Linked DNA regions of Homo sapiens. Each later gene encodes a partner of the first gene's protein in a complex. Each region holds a gene or a part of one and is shown in the gene's direction. Other genes may lie near its edges.

The links.
Region 2: the proteins of HELB (region 1) and RPA1 are in contact, whole or in part, in a crystal structure (PDB 7XV1), measured with the Homo sapiens proteins. Residues at the interface, in NP_001357214.1 of Homo sapiens: Glu496, Glu499, Val500, Lys502, Ala503, Cys504, Asp506, Phe507, Glu508, Asp510, Asn512, Ala513, Glu516, Trp517, Thr519; in NP_002936.1 of Homo sapiens: Asn29, Ile30, Arg31, Ile33, Arg41, Arg43, Leu44, Leu45, Ser54, Ser55, Met57, Ala59, Thr60, Gln61, Arg81, Ile83, Asn85, Leu87, Arg91, Val93, Ile95, Met97, Glu120.

What each region holds. Positions count from the first base shown.
Region 1 is NC_000012.12:66,323,407-66,335,427, forward strand, and holds part of HELB (DNA helicase B), read left to right. Parts: intron 1-576; coding exon 577-805; intron 806-1,500; coding exon of another isoform or gene 1,501-1,515; exon of another isoform or gene 1,516-1,576; coding exon 1,577-1,720; exon of another isoform or gene 1,721-2,106; intron 2,107-7,747; coding exon 7,748-8,239; intron 8,240-12,021.
Region 2 is NC_000017.11:1,879,547-1,891,567, forward strand, and holds part of RPA1 (replication protein A 70 kDa DNA-binding subunit), read left to right. Parts: intron 1-13; coding exon 14-153; intron 154-996; coding exon 997-1,145; intron 1,146-4,265; coding exon 4,266-4,398; intron 4,399-9,128; coding exon 9,129-9,305; intron 9,306-12,021. UniProt on the Homo sapiens protein: As part of the heterotrimeric replication protein A complex (RPA/RP-A), binds and stabilizes single-stranded DNA intermediates that form during DNA replication or upon DNA stress.

The sequences.
Region 1 (12,021 bases):
CGTTTCCCTCTCCCACGTCTATAAAAGCGGGTATGGACACAGAATTTCCCTTACCAAGTTGTAGTAAGAATGAAATGAAATAATGTACCTAAAGCAGTTAGCGCAGTAGCTGGCCTATCACCACCACTTCTTCAGTTTGCTGCTGTTGTACTGATATAGTGCCATAATTATTACAATAGAAATGTGTATAAGTGCTGTAAGACCTCAAATAAGGTAATGATAAGAGAGATTGGAGAGCAGAGGATTAATTTTAAAGGAAAAAAATCAAAATTTGTGTTAACCTTTAGAATATAAGGGGAAAGAGAGACATCAGCATTTAAGCCAAAATTTCTAACTTGAAAAAATTTGACTGGGAAATGTCATTGAGTTTGAGACGTTGCAGGGAGTATGTATAAATAATCAGATGACAGCTATGGGAACCTGATTTCTTGTTGCTCATTGGAGAATGAAAGTGTTGTAAATAAAATGTGGAAATTATTCTGAAAATTGAAACGAGTCTGAGTAGTAGTTAATGTTTGAACAAGTGAAACGGAGACTTTCCAAACTTTGATTATATATTATCATTTTCTATCCCAGAGACCATCAGAGTAGACTTGTTTTTGGAATTGGTGATAAAATTTGTTGTACCAGGAATGCATACCTCTCAGACTTACTACCTGAAAATATCTCTGGAAGTCAGCAAAATAATGATCTAGATGCCAGTAGTGAAGACTTTTCTGGTACGCTTCCTGATTTTGCTAAAAATAAGCGTGACTTTGAAAGTAACGTTCGACTGTGCAATGGAGAGATATTTTTCATAACAAATGTAAGTGAAAACAGAAGATAATATCTTTTAACTAATTAGAGATATGTTTGGTTATTTTATTGTCCTAGGATTCATTCAGAATCTAATGATATCAGTTGACATTCTTGTTTCATGATTTTTTGTTAAGGATTTTTGGCATCCATGTTTATGAAGGATATGGGTAGTTATCTGGTAATGTCCTGTCTGGCTTTAATATCAGGATAATACTGGCCTCAGAAAATGAGTTGGGAAGTGCTTCTTCTTATATTTTCTAGAAGATTTTATGAAGAAACATTTTTAATAAAATCGAAGTACTTGAGTAACAAAAAACAAGGCATAAATGAGACATAGATTTTAAAAAGCATCATTTCCTTTGTTGCTGCTTAAATGTAGAAACTATAGAAGTGGTTGCCTTGTATTTGTTCTCACAGTGTAGATACCCTCACTGAAAGCTGTGAGGAAAAGTAAACTGCAAAGAATCTACTCAGACTTATGTAGTCAATACAAGAAATGAATGTATAGACTTCAAAATAAGAAATAACAGGCTGTTCTTCACAGAGTCAAATTGAAGATAAGTTTCAAAGACTGAAAACTTCTATTTGTGTTTATTAAAATATTTAGGTATAGATATATTGTTTGTGCTGAAATGCAAATTTTAAGCCTTTTGAAATTCTTAATGGTAATTGTAATTCTTATATTTTATGTTTGACCCAAAGATAGAATATCTTTGAACGTATTTGAACGTAGAACATATTTGAAGGTATGCAAAATAGTTCTTTGGTTTGGTGACAGGATGTAACTGATGTAACTTTTGGAAAGAGAAGATCTTTGACCATTAATAATATGGCTGGCCTGGAAGTAACTGTGGATTTTAAGAAACTAATGAAATATTGTCGCATAAAACATGCATGGGCAAGAACTATTCACACTTTTCAGGTAAGAGGAGACTTTTATCAAACCTTTTAAATAATTTACCAACCTTAGAGCGCCTTGCATTGTTTTCGTAAATTTTTGTTGCACTTATTAGCAAACAAAAATTAGGAAACAAAATACACAAAAGTACAGAACATAATAGAGAAGACGCCACCCTTTTGCTCTTTTTTGCTCCAGAGCTCTCTTTATTTTTAGAAACAAAGGCATTATAGGTAAAGTCTCCTCCTTCAGGTCTTCCCCTCCCTGCCTGAGTCTCCAGTATGGCTTGGCATGGCACTGTACTCATCTTATCTTTGGTTAAATTCTGATATTTTGTTCATCATGGATCCTTTTGTGCCTTAATTTTGATTTACAAAACTGTTACATTAAAATGTCTTGATTTATCTTGATTGCTGAGTTTCTTGGGAACCCATTAAATTTTGTACTGGAGGTGAGTTCCTCACTTGCCTTGCCCTAGTCCTGGGTCTGCCTCCCGCCTTCCTCCAAAGTGACTTCTGCCCCGAATTTGGTATATATCACTCCTATTCATGTAGAAGCAATATATATGATTGTTTTCTGTGTTACTGAGGCTTATGTAAATGGTGTAATCATGTTTCTATACTTTTGCAACTAGCTTTTATTTTTTATTTTTTGCCTTATCAACTTTGTGGGGTATAATGTGCATACAGTTTCATTATAAAGTTGGTTGAGTTTTGACAAATGTATCCTCTCTCTCCATCTTTGTGAGGCAACCTTTTATCCCCCCGCCCCCAACTTATGTGGGAATATTGTTAGGTTTACAGAAGAGTTGGAATGATACTACAGAGAGTTTTCATATACCTTTCACCCAGCTTTCCTTGGTGTTTAACATTTTATAACTATGGCATATTTGTCAAAACTAAGAAATTACTATTGCTGTAAGACTGCTAACTAAACTATGCATATTCGAATTGCACCAGTTTTTCCATTAATGTCCTTTTGCTGTTCTAGGACAGCATATTGAGTTTAGTGCAACTTGCCTTTATGCTTTATTTTAATGCCCTTGAATTCTCATCTGTTATTAGTGAGTCTCTTATTTATCTCTTTGTTTTGAGCTTCCTTCTCTGCTGTTGGTATGTTGCTTTAATGGAGAGGTTGCATCAACCTTCATTTTTTTTTTTGAGACAGTCTCGCTGTGTCGCCCAGGCTGGAGTGCAGTGGCGCGATCTTGGCTCACTGTAAGTTCCGCCTCCCAGGTTCAAGTGATTCTCCTGCCTCAGCTTCCCGAGTAGCTGGGATTACAGGCACATGCCACCACGCCTGGCTAATTTCTGTATTCTTAGTAGAGACGGGGTTTCACCATGTTGGTCAGGCTGGTCTCGAACTCCTGACCTTGTGATCTGCCCATCTCGGCCTCCCAAAGTGCTGGGATTACAGGCCTGAGCCACTGCACCCGGCCCAACCCTCATTTTTATGCAGAAAAATTTAGGTCAGCCCAAATTTTCTACTAGTAAACAAACATTAATTAGCATAGAGTTTTGTTTTCTTTTTTAAGTGGGTGGGGCTTTATTTATTAACTTACCCCATCTCGATTCCAAAAAGAATTTGAAATGGCTTATTAAAAATGCCCACAATTCAGCTGATTTTTTTTTTTTAAAGGTAAAAAAGGGTCTGGTGTGGTGGCTCACGCTTGTAATCCCAGCACTTTGGGAGGCCGAGGTAGGTGGATCACTTGCAGTCAGGAGTTCAAGACCAACCCTGGCCAACATGGTAAAACCCCATCTCTACTAAAAAATACAAAAAAGGTAACTGGGCATGGTGGTGGGCACCTCTAAACCCAGCTACTTGAGAGGCTGAGGCATGAGAATCACTTGATCCTGGGAGGCAGAGGTTGCAGCAAGCTGAGATTGTGCCACTGCACTCCAGCCTGGGCAACAGAGGGAGACTTCATCTCAAAAAAAAAAAAAAAAAAAAAAAAAAAAAAAATATATATATATATATGTTTATATAGAAAGGATGTCAAGTGAAAAATAAGGATGATAAAATGGTTCTTGCCAGGGGTGGTTGGAATGCAGCCATGCCCGCTTCCCTGTTTGCTAATGTCGATTGCAGATTTGGCTTTAAGTTCCCTTAAGACCAAAGTTCCCCAGGTAAAGTGAGAGTAAAAGTGTAATATTTCTGGCTCTGGGTCCTGAAGAATTTCTTCCGTGGATCTCTATGATGCCATCCTTCACCTTTACGAAATTTTCTTTTTCTCAGTTTCCTCTGTTCTGTCTCTCTAGAATTCCTAATATGTGCATATTAGACTTCCAGAAGTAGTTACCTAAATTTCTTATCAAACTGTCTTATTTTCCTTCTCATCACTTTGCTCTATTTTCTGAGAGATTTCCTTAAATTTATAATCCAGTTTTTTTTAATAAGAACGAATGAAGAGTAAAGGTGTCTTTATTATTACTGGGTTGAGGTTGGAGTAGATATCTTTCTGGTTATTTCATGGTTGAAGTAGCATCTCTTAGCTCTAAGAACATTCATGATTGTTATATCAACACACTGTTTCTTCCAAGTTCAATTCCGTTCAACAAATACTTACTGAGTGAGACTCTGTTCTTGGTGTTTGGTACAGGTCAGTCTATAAAACAGACAAAGATTCTTGCCATTGTGAAGCTTAAATTTGGTGGGAAAGGGGATAGAGACAGACACAGTCATAAAAATAAAAAAAATAAAAACAAGAAAGAAAACTCTGTGTTATGTTAGAAGGTGGCAAATCCTGTGGAAAAGAGGTGGGAGTGGGTGCAATTGTGATTTTAAATAGAATGTCGATATAAGCCTCATTGAGAAGATAACATTTTATCCAAAGATTTGAAGAAGGAAAAGAAGTTAGTCATGTGAGTATCTGGGACAGGAGCATTCCAGGTTGAGGAATAACCAAGGGCAGGGTTCTAAGGTGAGAGTCTGTCTGGTATAGTTGAGAAGCAGGAATAGCAAGGTGGCCACTGTGGGAGACTGACAGGAAATGAGACAGGAAAATTAATATGAGGTAAAGAGGGCAGGAGGATGGTGGGGCCAGGTCACCTCCTAGGGCATTTGAAGGCCTGCACTATCCAGTATGTTAGCCACTAGCCACGTGTAGCTATTGAGCGCTGGAAATGTGGCTAGAGTGACTGAAAAACTAAATTTTAATTTTAAAAATGGATACTAGGCTGGGCACAGTGTCTCACACCTGTAATCCCAGTACTTTGGGAGGCTGAGGTGGGCAGGTCAATTGAGCCCAGGAGTTCAAGACCAGCCTGGGCAACATAGTGAAACCCCATCTCTACAAAAAATACAAAACAGTAGCCAGACATGGTGGCATGCACCCATGGTCCCAGCTACTCGGGGGTCTGAGGTGGGAGGATTTCCAGAGTCTGGGAGCTGGAGGCTGCAGTGAGCTCCTAGCCCGGGTGACAGAGTGAGACCCTCTCTCAAAAACAAAAACAAATAAACAAAACAAAAGTTACTAGATACAGTCATTGGAAAACTTCTGTATGTTGGAAAAACTATGTTTGGAATAACTTGGGTATGTGAATCTTCTTTTTCAACTACAAATTTTATGAACTCTAGAAATAGATTAAGTATTTCTGATGAAAATTTAGTATCTAAATTGAAATGTTCTGGTTGTATAAAATATAGAATTTCAAAGATGTAGTCTTTTATTAATAACTTAATATTGATTATATGTTAAAATGATGATATTTTGGATATGTTAGCTTAAGTAAAATACAGGTATATTATTAACATTAATTCTATCCATTTCTTTTTTAATGAGACTACTAGAAAATTTTAAGCTGCATATATGACTTATTTTATATTTGTATTGGACAGTGCTGTTCTAGACTATTTTAAGGACTTTGGCTTTTACCTGAGTGAAATGGGGAGCTGTTGAAGATTTTGTGGCTCTTCATACAAGTGGTTGAGTTGTAGAACCAATTTATAGAATAGACATATACATAATTAAAAGTAAATATAGGAAACTTACTTCCTTAAGCAGTTTGACAGTTCTGATTTTCAAGGGAGATTTAAAGCAATGAGGAAATTATTTATAGCAGGTTATCAAGGTGAAGTTAGGTGTCTTACTTTCTGAGGTAGACTTAAGTACCATCTTGGAGTGCAGAATTCCAGGGACAGCAGATATTTGGCTCCTGTAGCATGACATTTTAATTTTTAATCATCATTCACTCAGTGAGGCACTGGAGAAAGAACAGTGAGTAGGATAAAGGTGAAGCTCTGCCTTCATGGAGCTTCCAGCCTGTGATAGAGGAAGTACAGGGTGCTGGAGAGTAATAGATGGGGCGGCTACTCCAGACATGGGCCAAATTGAGGCCATGGACTGAGGAATGCTGACAGGACCTGGAAGTCCCTTGTGCTGGGTGGAGCATGGTTCATGGAAAAGAAAGGGAAAAAAGTAAGGAGAGGAGCAGGGCCAAGCTGGCTCTTGAAGGGCTTTACAAACACATTAAGGGGTTAGGACTTTATTTGGAGTCCCTGCGAGCCATTAGAGGTTTTAAGCAGCATCTAATATGATTGGGTTTGCATTTTACAAATATCACTGTGGCTGCCATGAGGATGATGGATTGGGCAAGAGAAGGTACAGGGAGACTGATAATGAGACCATTAAGTATTAATAATAGTATATCTACTATTATTACTATATTTTTCTCAGTGTTGCTTAATAATTAAGAACTAGGTTAGCTGAGTTTAGGTAGACATTTTCATATTTGAGAATGTACAATATAAAGTCCAAGGTGAAGAGTGGTGCCATATATCTGTGGAAATGTATGTAATCAAATACCATTTATGTCAATTTCTGAGACCCAGCAACATCGGAAAGATGTATTTATCAAACTTTTACAATCTGAGGAGCTGCTTCAAACTCTCTGTCTACGAAGATAGAAGAGCTTGCTGAGCAAGAGTTTATTTGCAGCGGATGTGTATTTTTTACTTGCCCCATCTTGTCAGTTGTCTTCCCACAATTTTTCCTTTGGCAGGAGCAATGTCAGAGCAATGGGGGAGATAATGGTACAAACCACTTCTTTGTCTGTGTTGGCACTGGATCCGCTGACTCAGAATATAGGACTAAGAATAGCCCTCAAACTTGAAATTGTTTTCTTACAGTTACACGGTGATATTGAGTATTTTTCTTGCCTATCCAATTTTTTGTTAAAAGACAAAGGTTCATTGTTTTCTTTTTTATCTTGATAAAAGAAATAAATTGCCCAACAATGGAAAAATACAGACAAGTAGGAGAAAAAAAAGTCATCCATAGGCCTTCCATTTGGAGACATTAATAAAAAATTTGGTAGAATTTCTCTCTTTTTTTGTGATTTGTTTTGTTTCATTGTACATAGCTATGTTCTTTTTTTATATACTTGTTTTGGATCAGAGTAACTATATTGCTATACAGTTTTGACCATTCTCTATGTGTGTGTGTATCTATCTATCTGTCTATATATATATATAGATATATATATGGTTTTTAAAATGTGGCTTTAAAGTATCTCTGATGTTCACAAAATAGTATGTCAACTGTGTATATATTATATATATAAGTATATAATATATATTCACCTATTGCTACTTAAAATTTCTATATTTTATCATTACATGTAATATTTTTATACATATATTTATATATAATATATCTATATGTTTACCTATTACTGGCTACTTAAAGTTTTCATATTTTGCCATTATATGTAATAATGGGTTAACACATTTACACATGAAGCCTGTACCATCATTTCAGTCTTTTATTAGGAAAGGTTTAATACTGCATGCAGTCTTTAAAATTTGCTGCTGGGTTTCTACAAGCCAGTTGTGGACCTATGAAACCTGAACTTAGCAGCATGTTTAGCAGTGTGTTTAGAGTTCTTGGAGGATGAATAAAAATGGAACCCATAAAATGGACACATAATAATAGTCTGGCCAGGTAGAAGTGCTTGAGAGCACTTTGAACACTTGTCTCCTTTCCTTGTCTGTAAACTGTCTGAACCTATTTTATAGCATTTAGTCTTCACACCATATTTTTCCTGCCAGGGGTCCGAGGAGCAAACAGTTGTCTATGTGGTGGGGAAGGCGGGCCGCCAGCACTGGCAGCATGTCTACACCGCCGTGACCAGGGGCCGCTGCCGAGTGTATGTGATTGCAGAGGAGTCTCAGCTCCGGAATGCCATTATGAAAAACAGTTTTCCTAGAAAAACTCGTTTGAAACATTTCTTGCAAAGTAAGCTCTCCTCTAGCGGCGCACCTCCAGCAGATTTTCCGTCCCCACGGAAGAGCTCTGGAGACAGTGGAGGACCCAGCACACCGTCAGCATCTCCACTCCCTGTAGTCACAGACCACGCCATGACAAATGATGTCACCTGGAGCGAGGCCTCTTCGCCTGATGAGAGGACACTCACCTTTGCTGAAAGATGGCAATTATCTTCACCTGATGGAGTAGATACAGATGATGATTTACCAAAATCGCGAGCATCCAAAAGAACCTGTGGTGTGAATGATGATGAAAGTCCAAGCAAAATTTTTATGGTAGGAGTGATGTTTCCATGTTCCCAAGTTTTATTTAAATATCGCTAACTTCGGTGTGCTTATAAATGACTGTGTGCTTTTATTAGTGTTGCATTGTGCTGTTGGACTTAAAAACAATTGTTTTTCTCATTTCTGTCAAATTTCCCTTACCTCACTGTCTGATTTCCCCTTCATTTCCTCACTCCTTTTCTCCTTCCCAGCCTCTAACTGAAGACAACTCCCCAAAGCTCAGTTCTTTTTTCCTTTGAGAACTGACTCATTCTCACAGTTTCAGCCATCTCCTTGGCACCAGTGATTTGGCTAACAAAGTTTTGACTATAGTAACATTTCAGGCACCAGGAATTAGAGATAAGTGAGTGACAGTTCTCACTCTCACACTGATTGTCATGGTGGAGACAGTCGGCTATCAGTAATGTGGTGATTTGCTGAGTGCTCTGGCACTGAAGAGGAGTTAATGAACCAGCTGCCTAATCTGCATCTTTGTTCCCAGAAATTGATTTTCTGGAACCACAGCCCAGAATCTTACTCTCTTTTCCAATTTCTCCATTTCAATCACCATCTTCCTAGTTACATGGCTTAAAGTCTTAGAATCACCATGGACTCGCCTTCCTTTCACTCTCTACCATCTTCTTGGATGATTGGTGACCTGGCTGCCCTCCCCTTTCTTGTTCCCATTCTCGTAATGTAGCATTCCCCCTTTTCCATGGTTTTGCTTTCCAAGGTTTCAGTTACCCATGGTCAACCGTGGTCCAAAAATATTAAATGGAAAATTCCAGAAATAAACAATTCGTCAATTTTAAATTGCATGCCATTCTGGGCAGTGTGATAAAATCTCACACCATCTCATTCCATGAATCCTCCCTTTGTCCAGTGTGTCCACACTGTGGACACTCCCCACCTGTTAGTCACTTGCCACCATCTTAGTTATCGGAGTAAGTCTCAGTGTTGCAGTGCTTGTGTCAAGTGATCCTTATTTTACTGAATTGCTTTATTTTTTATGTTATTGTTGCTAACTTTTTACTGTGCCTATTTATACATTAACCTTTTTTATAGGTATGTATGTATAGGAAAAACCAATACATTTGGGTCTGGTAGTATTCAAGGCTTCAGGTGTCCGTTAAGATTCACTTCTTTGTTCAAAAGCTTCAGAGACTCCCAGGTGCCTACAACATAAATTCTAGACTATTTAGCTTGGCATTTGAGACCTTTCTCAATTTGATTCCAGTTTTCTCAACATCATTTCATTTCCCACTATGCTTTTTCTGCTTTTGTCAAGCTAGTGTCTTCAACTCACTAAAATGAATCAAACTTTTTCATCCTCCTTTTGACTCTTGCTGTGTCCCTCATCTTGAATGCCTTTTTCTGTCTCCTTCTCATTCAGCATTTGAAAAAAACATTTAGCAAAACATTGAAAAAATAAAAATAAAAACCTGCCAGTCACTGATCTAAATGTTAAGGGAGGAAAGCGCACCAGTGCCGGCTTTGTGGACATTATATTCCAGCATAGGCAATAAATACAAGAGAAAATCAAATTTCAGATTAAGAGTCTATGAGGATGAAAAACAAGGCAAGGACATAGGGAATGGCAGGGGGTGTGGTGGGCAGGAGGTGCTATTTTGACCAGGTCATGCCTCCCTAAAAAGGTGACATGTGAGCTGAGCACTGAATGTTACCAAGGAGCAGCATGGGGGCCTCTGAGGATGTAGATAATGCAAAGCCTGGAAAGGGAATGATTTTATTCAAAGAGGAAGGCAGGTTGGCCTAGTGCAGTGCTCATGCCTGTAATCCCAGCACTTTGGGAGGCTGAGGCGGGTGGATCACCTGAAATCAGGAGTTTGAGACCAGCCTGGCCAACATGGTGAAACCCCTTCTCTACTAAAAATACAAAAAATTAGCCAGGCATGGTGGCAGTCACCTGTAATCCCCGCTACTCGAGAGGCTGAGGGAGGAGTCGCTTGAACCCAGGAGGTAGAGGTTGCAGTAAGCCGAGATTGCACCACTGCACTCCAGCATGGGCAACAAGAGCAAAACTCTATCTCAAAAACAAAACAAAACAAAACAGAGGAAGGTTGGCTAAGGTGGCTAGTGAGCGAGGAAGAGGGTGCAGGTGCTGGTGTTGGAGAGATGGGCAGGGCCACGGGAATGAGTTGGGATTTTATTCTGCTTGCAGTGGGAATTCATTTGAGGGCTGGAAGCAGTGGTGTAATATCATCTGATGCCTGCTTAAACATAGTCCCAGCATGGTGGCTCATACCTGTAATCCCAGCACTTTGGGAGGCGGAGGTGAGAGAATCGCCTGAGCCCAGGAGTTTGAGACCAGCCTGGGTAATATGGTGAACCCCCATCTCTACTAAAAATACAAAAGTTAACTGGGCATGGTGGCATGCACCTATAGTCCCAGCTACGCGGGAGGCTGAGGCAGGAGGATCACTTGAGACTGAGAGGTCGAGGCTGCAGTAAGCTGTGATTGCATCATGGTACTCCAGCCTGGGTGACAGAGCAAGAGCCTGTCTCAAAAACAAAACCACAATCCCTGCTGGGTGTGGTGGCTCACACTTGTAATTCCAACACCTTCAGGAGCCAGGCAGGAGGATCGCTTGAGCCCAGGAGTTTGAGACTAACCTGGGCAATATAGTGAGATTCCATCTCTACAAAAATAGTAAAAAATTAGCTGAACTTGGTAGTGCATATCTGTAGTCCCAGCTACCCAGGAAGCTAAGGTAGGAGGATTGCTTCATCTCAGGAGTTCCAGGCTATAGTGAGCTGTGATTGTGACGTCCCATTCCAGCCTGGGTGACAGACCAAAACCCTGTCTCAAAAAAAAAGAAAAAAAAAAAAAAAAAGCAAGGCTAGGCACAGTGGCTCACACCTGTAATCCTAGCTCTTTGGGAGGCCAAGGTGGGCGGATCACTTGAGCCCAGAAGTTCAAGACCAGCCTGAGCAACATGGCGAAACCCCATCTCTACCAAAAATGCAAACAAAAATTAGCTGGGGGTGGTGCTGGGTGCCTGTTGTCTTAGCTGCTTAGGAGACTGAGGTGGGAGGATCACCTGACCCCAGGAGGTTGAGGCTGCAGTGAGCTGTGATGGTGCCACTGCATTCCAGCCTGGGCGACAGAATGAGACCCTGTCTCAAAAATAAATAAATAAATAAATACATACATACAAAATAAACAATCCCTCTGGCTTCTGTGGAGAGGGAACTGTGGAAAGTGAAGGGGAAGTGAGGAGACCAGTAGGAGGTCATCATGGGGAGAGCCTAGTGAAAGAGTGGGGCTGGTAATCTGTGGTTGGAGTGTGGATGCATTTTGGAGATGGAGTCTGTATAACTTTCTGATTAGATGTGATGAGGTAAAAGAGAAAGTAATCCAGGATGATTCCTGGATTTCTGGCTAAAGCAATTTGGGGAATAGCAGTGCCATTTCCTGAGATGGGAAAGATGTGAGGAGAACTCGTTTGGGGAAATAAAGCGTTCTCTTGTGGCGTGCTGTTGTTTAAGTTACTAATTGGAAATGTACCTGGACTTGTTGAGTAAGTCCGTGGTTGGTAGAGGAGTTTAGAGCCTCAGCAGGGAGTAGGGTAGGAAAGGCCCACTTGGGAATCATTGGCATGTAGTGATATTGCAAGGACTAGGTGAGTTAATTTCAGGAGAGACTGCAGATAGAGGAGGGGGCCTGATGACAGAATTCTGGGGTATTCCCAGCTTTTAGAGATCTGGCAGAGGAGGAGGAACTAAAAAGGAGTGTGAGTGAGATAGAAGGAAAACCAGGGCTGTGGGGAGGG
Region 2 (12,021 bases), on another chromosome or scaffold:
GCATGTGTTTTAGACATCATCGGGATCTGCAAGAGCTATGAAGACGCCACTAAAATCACAGTGAGGTCTAACAACAGAGAAGTTGCCAAGAGGAATATCTACTTGATGGACACATCCGGGAAGGTGGTGACTGCTACACTGTGGGGGGAAGATGTAAGTGCTGGGATGGGGTCTTCAACACGCACAGGACCTCCTGGGGTTGGGGCGTGGTCTTGTCCTATAGGATGGGGCCTTCAGCACACACAGGAGGAGCTCCTGGAGTTGGGGGAGGGAGTGGTCTTATCCTATAGGATGGGGCCTTCAGCACACACAGGAGGAGCTCCAGGAGTTGGCGGAGGGGGCATCTTGTCCTATAGGATGGGGCCTTCAGCACACACAGGAGGAGCTCCTGGAGTTGAGGGAGGGAGGGGTCTTGTCCTATAGGATGGGGCCTTCAGCACACACAGGAGGAGCTCCTGGAGCTGGCGGAGGGGGCGTCTGTTCCTATAGGATGGGGCCTTCAGCACACACAGGAGGAGCTCCTGGGGTTGGGGGAGGGAGGGGTCTTGTCCTATAGGATGGGGCCTTCAGCACACACAGGAGGAGCTCCTGGGGTTGGCGGAGGGGGCGTCTTGTCCTATAGGATGGGGCTGTTAGCACACACAGGAGGAGCTCCTCGTGGGGGCGGTTTTGTCCTATGAGTTGGGGGCTTTCACCATGTAGATGGGAAGGATTGTGCTGTCTGGTAAGTATTTAAAATCCTTTATCTTACTTCTGTGAGATTTGCTGTGATTCAAGCTTTACGCGGGGAAATGCTCTTTCCCCTAACTCTAGGAAAGCAGTGATAGTTTTGATGTGTCTCTGAGTAGATTCTCATGTGTGAGGTCTGTCTTGTATGGATTCCATGTACGCTGATTACATTCACTCTACTATTGAATGTTTGCCTTGTTTTCTATAAAAATCTTCTGTGTTCTTCCTGCTAGTGACACTTGTATATGTCTGGTGTTTCTTTTACAGGCTGATAAATTTGATGGTTCTAGACAGCCCGTGTTGGCTATCAAAGGAGCCCGAGTCTCTGATTTCGGTGGACGGAGCCTCTCCGTGCTGTCTTCAAGCACTATCATTGCGAATCCTGACATCCCAGAGGCCTATAAGCTTCGTGGATGGTAGGTTTTGTGGGGCTAAACAAAGGGTTACTTGAGGCTGGGCTTTGAGAAAAGCTGGTTACAATCAGCATGGGAGCTTTCTGCCAAGCAGAAGCCTTCGTCCCTGAGTGGTGCAGCTTCCGTGTTTCTTGAAGGCATTATGCCTTCTGTGAGGAGGGCTTTAAAGCCCTTAAACGGACAAACCTGTAATCCCAGGACAAACCTAGAGAGTCGGAGGAGGCAATTAGCATGTAAGTGCTGCCTGCTGACCTCGATCCTGCCAAAGGAGGGGACGGCCAGGCTTCAGCAGCGGTGTGCTGAAGGCGCCTTTCTTTCCAGGGTTTAGGCTCTGGGCCTCTGTGGCGTGGGGGAACACATGCTTTCTTTCTCTGTCAAGTCTTTGGTGCCGATCACATCTTCTAGTGTGTATTCACTAGACTCTGATCAAGTGTGGTGAGAACAATGGGCTTTTTGTTAGGATTAGATTGTTATTCCCAAAGCACTCAAGGGATGAGGAGAGCCTGTTAAAATCTCCTCACTGTATCTAGCTTTTTAGGACATTCAAACTCTGTCTTAAAAGAGTACTTCAAACTGAGACACAGGATGCAAGAATTGATGTGGTCAGGGAAAACACTTTCACCCAAGCTTCAATAATTCCCATAGCTGTAGTCTATGGGGGGGAAGTGTGTCAGTTTCCAGCTGTGTCTTAGGATTTAAGCAGCTAAAGAATGAGCTCATTTTACATACTCCTCCTTTGTTTTGAGTCATTTAAACCAATGGCACTGGTGTTTGACCAGTTTCATGAAGCATCTTCTGGAATGTTCATGTCACTGAGCCATCCTCATGAGTAGTACGGTCCACACGTATCTGCCGAACTGCAGGGCCCGTTCATAGTCTGACCAGAACTAGCCACAGATTTGCTTTTTTCTTATTGCTTGATTTTCTTTTAGGCTCTGGAGTTCGACTCCAGGTTAATTGCATTCCCACATTAAAATCGCATTCCCACATTAAAATTGCATTCCCACATTAATGTCTTCATCTTTTACTTGTCAATAATCATGATCCCAGTCAACATAAAAAGCACGGCTGTCCCCAGAATAAAATAACTTGGCATTGATCAAAGACAAGCTCAGTGCATACATGATACCTGGACAAGGATTAGAGATGTTTAGATCTTGGCTATAACAATGCAGAGTTTTTATTGTAAGAAGGGCCGCCTTGACTCCTGACGAGTGATCTTTGGTGGCAAATGTCTCCTTGGAGCTTTTGAAACCGTGAACTTGTGTAGCTAGTAGTGGTGAAACAGATGGATGGGCCTTGCTGTGCCCCTGTGAGGGATTTAGCCGCTTACCTGACAGGAGAAGGCAGCTGTCTGCAGCTCAGGGTAACATCCATTCTGTTAGATGGTCTCTGTTTAAGGAACCTGTTCTTTGTGTGGTTACCCACCTTGGGATGGTATTTGGCCTTTCATCTCCGGCCAGCTCCTCTCCGCCACCACTGTGTTCCCGAGCCACTTTCTCCTTGGCCCCTTTTCCTTCATATCAATTGATGTGTGATCAAGAAGTACAATCAGTTTTCATAATAATTTAATACAAATTAATTTAGCTTCGATATTAGCAAAAGTAAAATTTCACTAAGAAGGTAAATCTACAAGAAAAAAGATAATGCCTTCTGATAAGTTGCTCTGGTTTATAAAATCTTTTGGGCCAGGCACGGTGGCTCATACCTTAATTCCAGCACTTTGGGAGGCCGAGGTGGACAATTGCTTGAGGCCAGGAGTTCAAGACCAGCCTGGCCAACATGGTGAAACCTCGTCTCTACAAAAAATACAAAAATCAGCCGGGCCTGTAGTCCCAGCTACTCGGTGCGTGCCTGTAGTCCCAGCTACTCGGGAGGCTGAGGCACGAGAATCACTTGCCAGGAGGTGGAGGTTGCAGCGAGCCAAGTTGGTACCACCACACTCCATCCTGGGTGACAAAGCAAGACTCTGTCTCAAAACAAAAAAACCACTTTTGGCTTCTGTATCAGGCATAGGAGGCCTTTTATGGAAACACTTTTGCTACCACGGTATATTGGCTGTCCGTTTCCACACTGGTACATTTCGGTGATGATCACCACGCAGCTGCTGCCTGAGAATGAGCATTAGCAGATTAAAGGACTACCCCAGACGGCCACTTTATAGCTTACGGGTTGTTGACTTTCCCAGTTTCTGATTTTAGGCCTGGGGTGGTCTGGCCACTGCCAATATGCAAGGCTAGTTTAAGAAAAGATTCTTTGGTACTTTGGCACTGATTCTCTTCACCACTGGGGGGCATCAAAGCAACTGAGATTCAAAGAAAGGTCATTCCGTTTCTTCAGTAGACTTTGGGCCAGGAGCAGTGCCTCACGCCCTGTAATCCCAGCACTTTGGGAGGCCGAGGGAGGAGGATTGTCTGAGTCCAGGAGTTTGAGATCAGCCTGGCCAACAGAGCAAGACCCCATCTCTTAAAAAAATTTTTTTTTCGAGACGGAGTTTCGGTCTTGTTGCCCAGGCTGGAGTGCAATGGCGCCATCTCGGCTCACTGCAACCTCCGCCTCCTGAGAATTGCCTACAAGTGATTCTCCTGCCTCAGCCTCCCGAGTAGCTGGGATTACAGGCACCCACCACCACGCCCGGCTAATTTTGTATTTTTAGTAGAGACGGGGTTTCACCATGTTGGCCAGGATAGTCTTGATCTCTTGACCTCGTGATCCGCCCGCCTCATCCTCCCAAAATGCTGGGGTTACAGGCATGAGCCACTGCGCCCAGCCTAAAAAAAATTTTTTTAATGGGCCTGGGCATGGAAGTCCCAGTTACTTAGCAGGGCAAAGGTGGGAGGATCACTGAGCTCAGGGGGTCAAAGCTGCCTTGAGCCATGATTGCATCATTGCACTCCAGCCTGGGTGACAGAGTGAAACTCTGACACAATTTTTTTTAATTTAAATATTATAAAAAATATATAATTACGAAGATACCAGCTTCAGCCGACATGACCGTGACCTGTGTGAAAGCTGGGCGGGTGGTGGGAAACCTGTGTCTGTCGCGTAGCAGCAAGTTGCATGTGGAGAAGCAGAAGCATGTCACATCAAGCGCTCGTCATCGTTATTCGTTCACGTTTTCAGGTTTGACGCAGAAGGACAAGCCTTAGATGGTGTTTCCATCTCTGATCTAAAGAGCGGCGGAGTCGGAGGGAGTAACACCAACTGGAAAACCTTGTATGAGGTCAAATCCGAGAACCTGGGCCAAGGCGACAAGGTACCCAGCATTCCTAACCACCTTCACAAAGGGCTGTAAAGTGTGCAGAAGGATGGATTTAGAAACTTGGTTTCCAGCACCAGCTGTCAGAGCCGTAATTCTTACCCGGGGCTGTGACCTGAGCGTGGCATGGGGGTTGAGAATCACTGGCAGAGGGAAGCAGCCAGGTGTGCTCATGGGAATATGTGTTACCCCTCAGGGGACTGGAGGCAGGAGAGTCTGAAGAACTCTTAGAGTCAATTCCTAGAGGGATCTTGGAGCAGGGGTGACAGTCAAGCTTTGTGGTATAATATCACCTGCTTTCGGGTCCACGTTTCTTTCCTGTGATCCTTCCTGCAAATTTAAGCGCCCACATATCAAAAAGATGTTTTTTGAGATGAGCGTTAGTCCGCCTCAGGTCAGACATGAGGCAGTTTCACGGGTGCTGTTCCTGGCTGTAGAATAGTGTATTAACCTCATAGGCTGAGAGCTGCCGGCATTCCCGGACAAGGATTGGCCCTGACATTTGACTTTTAGTTGCAGCTTTTTCCTTTCAGTGTTTGTATTTAATGACCCTCCTCCCATCTTGATCTAAGCCTGTGTTCTGCCAGCAGTTTAGTATTTAGATCATTTATTTCTCCTTTACGCCTGCTCTTTTATTTTCATCATATACAGTGTAGGTTTCATTCCTCCTGTCTCATTTCACTGTATACCCTTATCCATCATTGTCAACAGCAGCTCTTAAGTGCTCTTATAGAACATCTCAAGAATTAAACACTGGACAGATCCTCGTTGTCCTGTCATGGGACACCCACTCTTTCGGTTCTCTGTAATCCCAGCTACCCAGGAGGCTGAGGCAGGTGGATTACATGAGCCCAGGAGTTCGACTGAGCAACATGGAAGACCCCTTCTCTTGAAACAAAAACTTTATTGCTGAAAAATGCTGACAATCATCTGAGTCGTAATCTTCTTGCTGGTGGGGGTTTGTTTCAGGGTTGATGGCTGAGCAGTCACGGCGATGGTTGCTGAACATCGGCGTGTCTTTGGCAGTTTCTTAAAATAAGACAGCAGTGAAGTGTGCCACATTGGTTGACTCTTCCTTTCACAAAAGCTTTCTCCATAGCCGGCGATGCTGTTTGACAGCATTTTACCCACAGGAGAACTTTTTCAAACTGGAGTCTCTCCCTCTCAGGTCCTGTCACTGCTTTATCAGCCAAGCTTATGCAAATTCTAAATCCTTTGTCGTCATTTCAACAATGCTCACAGCGTTCTCACCACAAGAGATTTCATCTCAAGAAAGCACTTTCCTTGCCCATCGTAAGGAGCAGCTCCTTATCCGTTCAAGTTTGATCGTGAGATTACAGCAGTTCAGGCCCATTTTCAGGCTCCATTTGTAATTCTAGTTCTCTCGTTATTTTCGTCACATCTACAGATCCCTCCTCCACCAAAGTCTTGAAGCCTCAGTGTCTACCTTGAGGGTTGGAATCAACTTGTTCCAAACTCCCGTTGATGTTGGGATTTTGATCTCCTCCCATGAATCATGAATGTTCCTTTTTTTTTTAACTTGAGACAGGGTCTCATTCTGTCACTCAGGCTGGAGTGCACTGGCTTGATCACAGCTCACTGCAGTCTCAACCTCCCCAGGCTCCCAAGCTGGGACTACAGGTGCTGCCACACCTGGCTAATTGTATTTTTTGTAGAGACTGAGTTGTGTCATGTTGCCCAGGCTGCTCTCAAACTCCTGGGCTCAAGGGATCTCCCTGCCTCAACCTCTCAAAGTGCCAGGAGTTACAGGTGTGAGCGACTGTGCCCAGCCAACTGTTCTTAATAGCATCTAGAATGGTGAATCCTTTTCAGGTTTTCAATTTACTTTCCCCAGATCCATCAGAGGAATCACTGTGGCAACTATCGCCTCATGAAATATGTCTCTTAGACTTAAAAAGTCAAAATTACTCCTTGATTTGCATGGGCTGCAGAATAGATGTTGTTATCAAGCATGAAAACAATATTAATCTCCTTGTTCTGTGCATCTCCATTGAGCCCTCGGGTGAACAGGTGCATTGTCAATATATTAATCTCCTTGTACTGTGTGTCTCCATTGAGCCCTTGGGTGAACAGGTGCATTGTCAATATATTAATCTCCTTGTACTGTGTGTCTCCATTGAGCTCTTGTGTGAACAGGTGCATTGTCAATATATTAATCTCCTCGTACTGTGTGTCTCCATTGAGCTCTCGGGTGAACAGGTGCATTGTCAATGAGCAGTCATATTTTTAAAGGAGTCTCTTTTTCTGAGTAGTAGGTCTCAACAGTGGGCTTAAAATATTCAATAAACTACACTATAAATAGATATGCTGTCATCCAAGCTTTGATATTCTATTTATAAAGCAGAGGCAAAGTAGATTTAGCATAGTTCTTATGAGCCCTAAGATTTTTGACATGGTCAATGAGCACTGGCTTCACCTTATAGTCCCCAGCTGCATTCGCGCCTAACAGGAGAGTCAGCCTTTCCTTTGAAGCTTTGAAGCCAGGCATTGATTTCTACTCTCTAGGACGAATGTTCTTGATGGCATCTTCTTCCAGAAGGCTATTCTGTCTACGTTGAAAATCTGTTGTTGAGTGCAGCCACCTTCATTGGTGGTCCTAGCTAGATCTTCTGGATAACTTGCTGCAGCTTCTCCATCAGCACTTGCTGCTTCACCTTGCACTTTTGTTATGGTGACGGCTTATTTCCTTAAACCTCATGAACCAACATCTGCTGGCTGCCATCTTTTCTTCTGCAGCTTTTTTTTTTTTTTTTTTTGAGACAGAGTCTCACTCTGTCACCCAGGCTGGAGTGCAGTGGTGCAATCACAGCTCACCTCAGCCTCTGGAGTAGCTGGGACTACAGGTGCACACCACCGTGCCCTGACAGATTTTTGTAGAGACTAGGTCTCACTATGTTGCCTGGCTGGTATCGAACTCCTTGGCTTAGGCAATCATGTTGCCTCTGCCTCCCAAAGTGCTGGGATTACAGGTGTGAGCCACTGCACCTGGCCTCTTCTGCAGCTTCCTGACCTCTCTCAGCCTTCACAGAATTGAAGAAAGGTGAGGCCTTGCTCTGGGTTAGGCTTTGGCTTAAGAGAATGTTGTGGCTTGCTTGATATTCTATCTAGACCACTACAGCTTACTCCATATCAGCAGTAAGGCTGTTTGCTTTCTTATTTGTGTATTCAAAGAAGAGAGACAGGAATACTTGATTGGAGGATCAGTCAGCATACATACAACATTCATCAATATAAGTTCCCCATCTTATATGGGTGTAGTTGGTGGCACCCCAGAACAACTACAATAGTGACGTTAAAGATCACTGTAGGCCAGGCGCGGTGGCTCATTCCTGTAATCCCAGCACTTTGGGAGGCTGAGGCAGGCGGATCACCTGAAGTCAGGAGATCGAGACCATCCTGACCAACGTGGTTAAAACCCCGTCTCTACTAAAAATACAAAAATTAGCTGGGCGTAGTGGTGCATGCCTGTAGTCCCAGCTTCTCGGGAGGCTGAGGCAGGAGAATCGTTTGACCCTGGGAGGCGGAGATTTCAGTGAGCTGAGATCATGCCACTGCACTCCAGCCTGGTGACAGAGCGAGACTCCGTCTCAGAAAAAAAAAAAAAATCACCATAACAGATATGATAATAATGAAAAAGGGCCAGGCATGGTGGCTTACTCCTATAATCCTAGCACTTCGGGAGGCCAAGGTGGGTGGATCACTTGAGGTTTGGAGTTCGAGACCAGCCTACCCAACATGGCAAAACCCCATCTCTACTAAAAAATACAAAAATTAGCCAGGCGTGGTAGTGCACGCCTGTAGTCCCAGCTACTTGGGTGGCTGAGGCAGGAGAATCACTTGAACCTGGGAGGTGGAGGCTGCAGTGATCAGAGATTACACCACTCACTGCACCCCAGCCTGGGCGACAGAGCGAGACTCTGTCTCAAAAAATACATATATAATGAAAAAGTTTGAAATCTTGCAAGAATTACTGTCTTTATGTGACACAGAGACATAAAGTGAGCACCTGCTATTGGGAAAATAGTGCATTTACTTGACCCAGGGGTGCCACAAGTCTTCAATCTGTAAAAAATGCCGTATCTGTCAAGTGCAGTAAAGCAAAGCACAATAAAGTGAGGTGTGTCTGTAGTTGCAGCAGAGACTGTGACCAAATGGCTGCTAAGGCCTGAAATATTTACTGTTTGGCTTTTTACAGAAGCAGCTTGCTGATCCCTGGCCTAAACAAGGAAAAGGTGAATCTAGGCCTAGACACGACTGCCGTGTTTTGAGCGCGGGAGGGATGGTTGATCGTTGCTGCACTGGGTGTTTGTGGTCCGCATTCTGTATTTCCTAGATCTGTGGCCTTTGGAGGGTCAGAGGATCGGGAGGAACAAATCTTTGTCTTTCATACAGTGTTCAAGCAAACAGGAAAACAATTTCACTTTTAATTAACTTAGTGTAATTTAGGATTAACTCTTTTATTGTGAAGGAATTATCTGCCTCAGAACTTGGCTTATTAGAACTTGGCTTATTACCTTCATGGGTTTTGTACTCGGCACATGTGATTTCTAAAACTACAGAATGAATGATTCCCTGTGATCATGTGTAATCTTGAGGATGTAGAAACACTTACCACCTAAACGTAAGGGCAGGCTTTGAGCTGCCTCTCGGTCCGATCCTGGGCGGGCTCGCGACTCCGTGCCTCATGCTGTTCTTTTCTCCCGAAGCCGGACTACTTTAGTTCTGTGGCCACAGTGGTGTATCTTCGCAAAGAGAACTGCATGTACCAAGCCTGCCCGACTCAGGACTGCAATAAGAAAGTGATTGATCAACAGAATGGATTGTACCGCTGTGAGAAGTGCGACACCGAATTTCCCAATTTCAAGTACCGCATGATCCTGTCAGTAAGTAGCCTCGGTAGATGAGAACCACGGTTGTGTTCACGGAGGCCCTCCCGTGTGCCAGGCACTGTGGTCACAACAGTAGAGACAAAGCATTCCTGGTAGGAAGCCCGCAGATGAGTAGGTGTGGAAGAGCTTATCCATCCGCTTTTTCATGCCAGAAAGTGGTGTTGAGATACCCCAGCTGATTCAGTCTTTCATGCACGTCATACAGCCATAGCGTCAGTGACACTTGCCTGCTAACTGCTATGAAGATAAATTAATTTGAAAACGGCATTTATAGACAGCACTAATTGTACTTACACAGCCAATGCCCGTATTTAGTCACTTTCATGTGGATAATCTATTCTCTAGCTTTAGTATAGCTGACTTCAGAGGAATGTGACGGTGTGCTGATGTGAGATTGTTGCTTTTTTGCATTTTAAGAATTGTTTCTTTCTGTTTTAAAAACCTTTTTAAAAAAGTTGTAAAGTTGGGTTTAAAAAAATTTTTTTTTTTTTTTAAGAAACAGGGGTCTCACTCTGTTGCCCAGAATAGAGTGCAATGGTATCATCACAGCTCATGGTGGCCCCAACCTCCCGGGCTTAAGCAGTCCTTCCACCTTGGCCTCCCAAGTAGCTGCAACTACAGCTGTGCACCACCACACCCAGCTAATTTTTAAAATTATTTTATTGTAGAGACAGGGTCTCGCTCTGCTGTTCAGGTTGGTCTCAAGTTCCTGGCCTCATGTCATCCTCCCACCTCAGCCTTCCAAAGTGCTGGCATTACAAGCCTGAGCCACTGCACCCGGCCTTAAGATTTTTATTTTGTTTTGTTTTGTTTTCAATGATAGAACTAGGCGATAATAGCAGTTTAAGAAAACAGTTTAAGGCCGGGCACAGTGGCTCACTTTTGTAATCCCAGCACTTTGGGAGGCCGAGGCGGGTGCGTCACCTGAGATCAGGAGTTTGAGACCAGCCTGGCCAACATGGTGAAACCCTGTCTCTACTAAAAATACAAAAATTAGCCGGGCGTGGTGGCGGGTGCCTGTAGTCCCAGCTACTCGGGAGGCTGAGGCAGGAGAATCGCTTGAACCCGGGAGGCAGAGGTTGCAGTGAGCCGAGATCACACCACTGCACTCCAGCCCGGGCGACAAGAGCAAAACTCCATCTCAAGAAAAGAGAAAAAGAAAACAGTTTCACATTTTTCCAAAGGATGATTTGGCAGTAATATATCAGAAGCCTGAAAAATGTTCATATTGGCCAGGCGCAGTGACTTGTGCCTGTAACCCCAGCACTTTGGAAGGCTGAGGCAGGATGATTGCTTGAGGCTGGGAGTTCGATATCAGCCTGGGCAACATGGCAAGACCCTGTCTCTACAAAAAGTAAAATTAGCTGGCTGTGGTGGTATGCACTTGTCCCAGCTACTCATGAGGCTGAGGTAGGAGGATCGCTTGAGCCCGAGAGGTCAAGGCTGCAGTGAGCCATGATCGTGGCACTGCACTCCAGCCTGGGTGACAGAGTCAGACCCTGTCTTTAAAAAATAAATAAATAGGCCGGGCACGGTGGCTCACGCCTGTAATCCCAGCACTTTGGGAGGCTGAGGCAGGCGGATCACGAGGTCAGGAGATCGAGATCATCTTGGCTAACACAGTGAAACCCTGTCTCTACTAAAAGTACAAAAAAATTAGCCAGGCGTGGTGGCGGGCACCTGCAGTCCCAGCTACTAGGGAGGCTGAGGCCGGGGAATGGCATGAACCCGGGAGGTGGAGTTTGCAGTGAGCCACGATCGCGCCACTGCATTCCAGCCTGGGTGACAGAGCAAGACTCCATCTCAATAAATAAATAAATTAAATTAATAAATGATAAATAAAATGAAATGTTAGCTTAGCAGGACAGTTCTACGTTTAGGCTCATTTTTTGTAAACTATAAACTTTTCATTGAACTAAGATGAAGAAAATTTGTTTTAGTTTGTGGAAACATCAGCCTTTCTGTTAAACTCCACAGCGCAATCTCCCGCACACTTGTTTGATTTGATATTTATCACACGTGTGCGTCATTGTAGTTCTTGCCCTGTGTGATGAGATGCTCTTTGCTTCTTAGAAGGATAGCGTGGGTTAAAGGAAGTGTGAGCCCAGGGTGTGATACCGTTGCTGTGTATTGAGAGCGCTTTTCACTTTTAACTGGTTTCGTCACCTTATTTTTCGTCATAACATTCTCTCTATTAAAAGCCTTGTACCCATGCAAAATGAAGATGTAAAATCGTCAAAATGATGCCTTAAAGAAAAACCACTCGTGTTTCTACAAAGGCTTTTACTTCAGCAAGTGGATTCTTTGAGATCTGCTTTCTTCCTTGACTTTGCCCTGTTTAATGTTACACCACAGCCCAGTGGGAGACATTTGATTGCTCATTTCCTTTGCCAGGTCAATTTGGTGACTGACAGAGGCTCACGGGCAGGCTCTTCAGTTGTCTGGGTGCCCAGCAGTGACAGAGCCGTCTCATGGAACTCCTCCTAGGAACTACAGAGTGGGCAATTGAAAATGCAGAGAACTCCCCCGATTCACTCAAAACCCTTCATCCAAAGCCAGCTGCACCTCGACAGGAACTAATCTGATGGGCCTCTCTCTGTCACCCAGGCTGGAGTGCAGTGGCTCGATCTCAGCTCGCTGCAACCTCCGCCTCCCGGGTTCAAGTGATTCTCCCGCCTCAGCCTCCTGAGTAGCTGGGATTACAGGCACC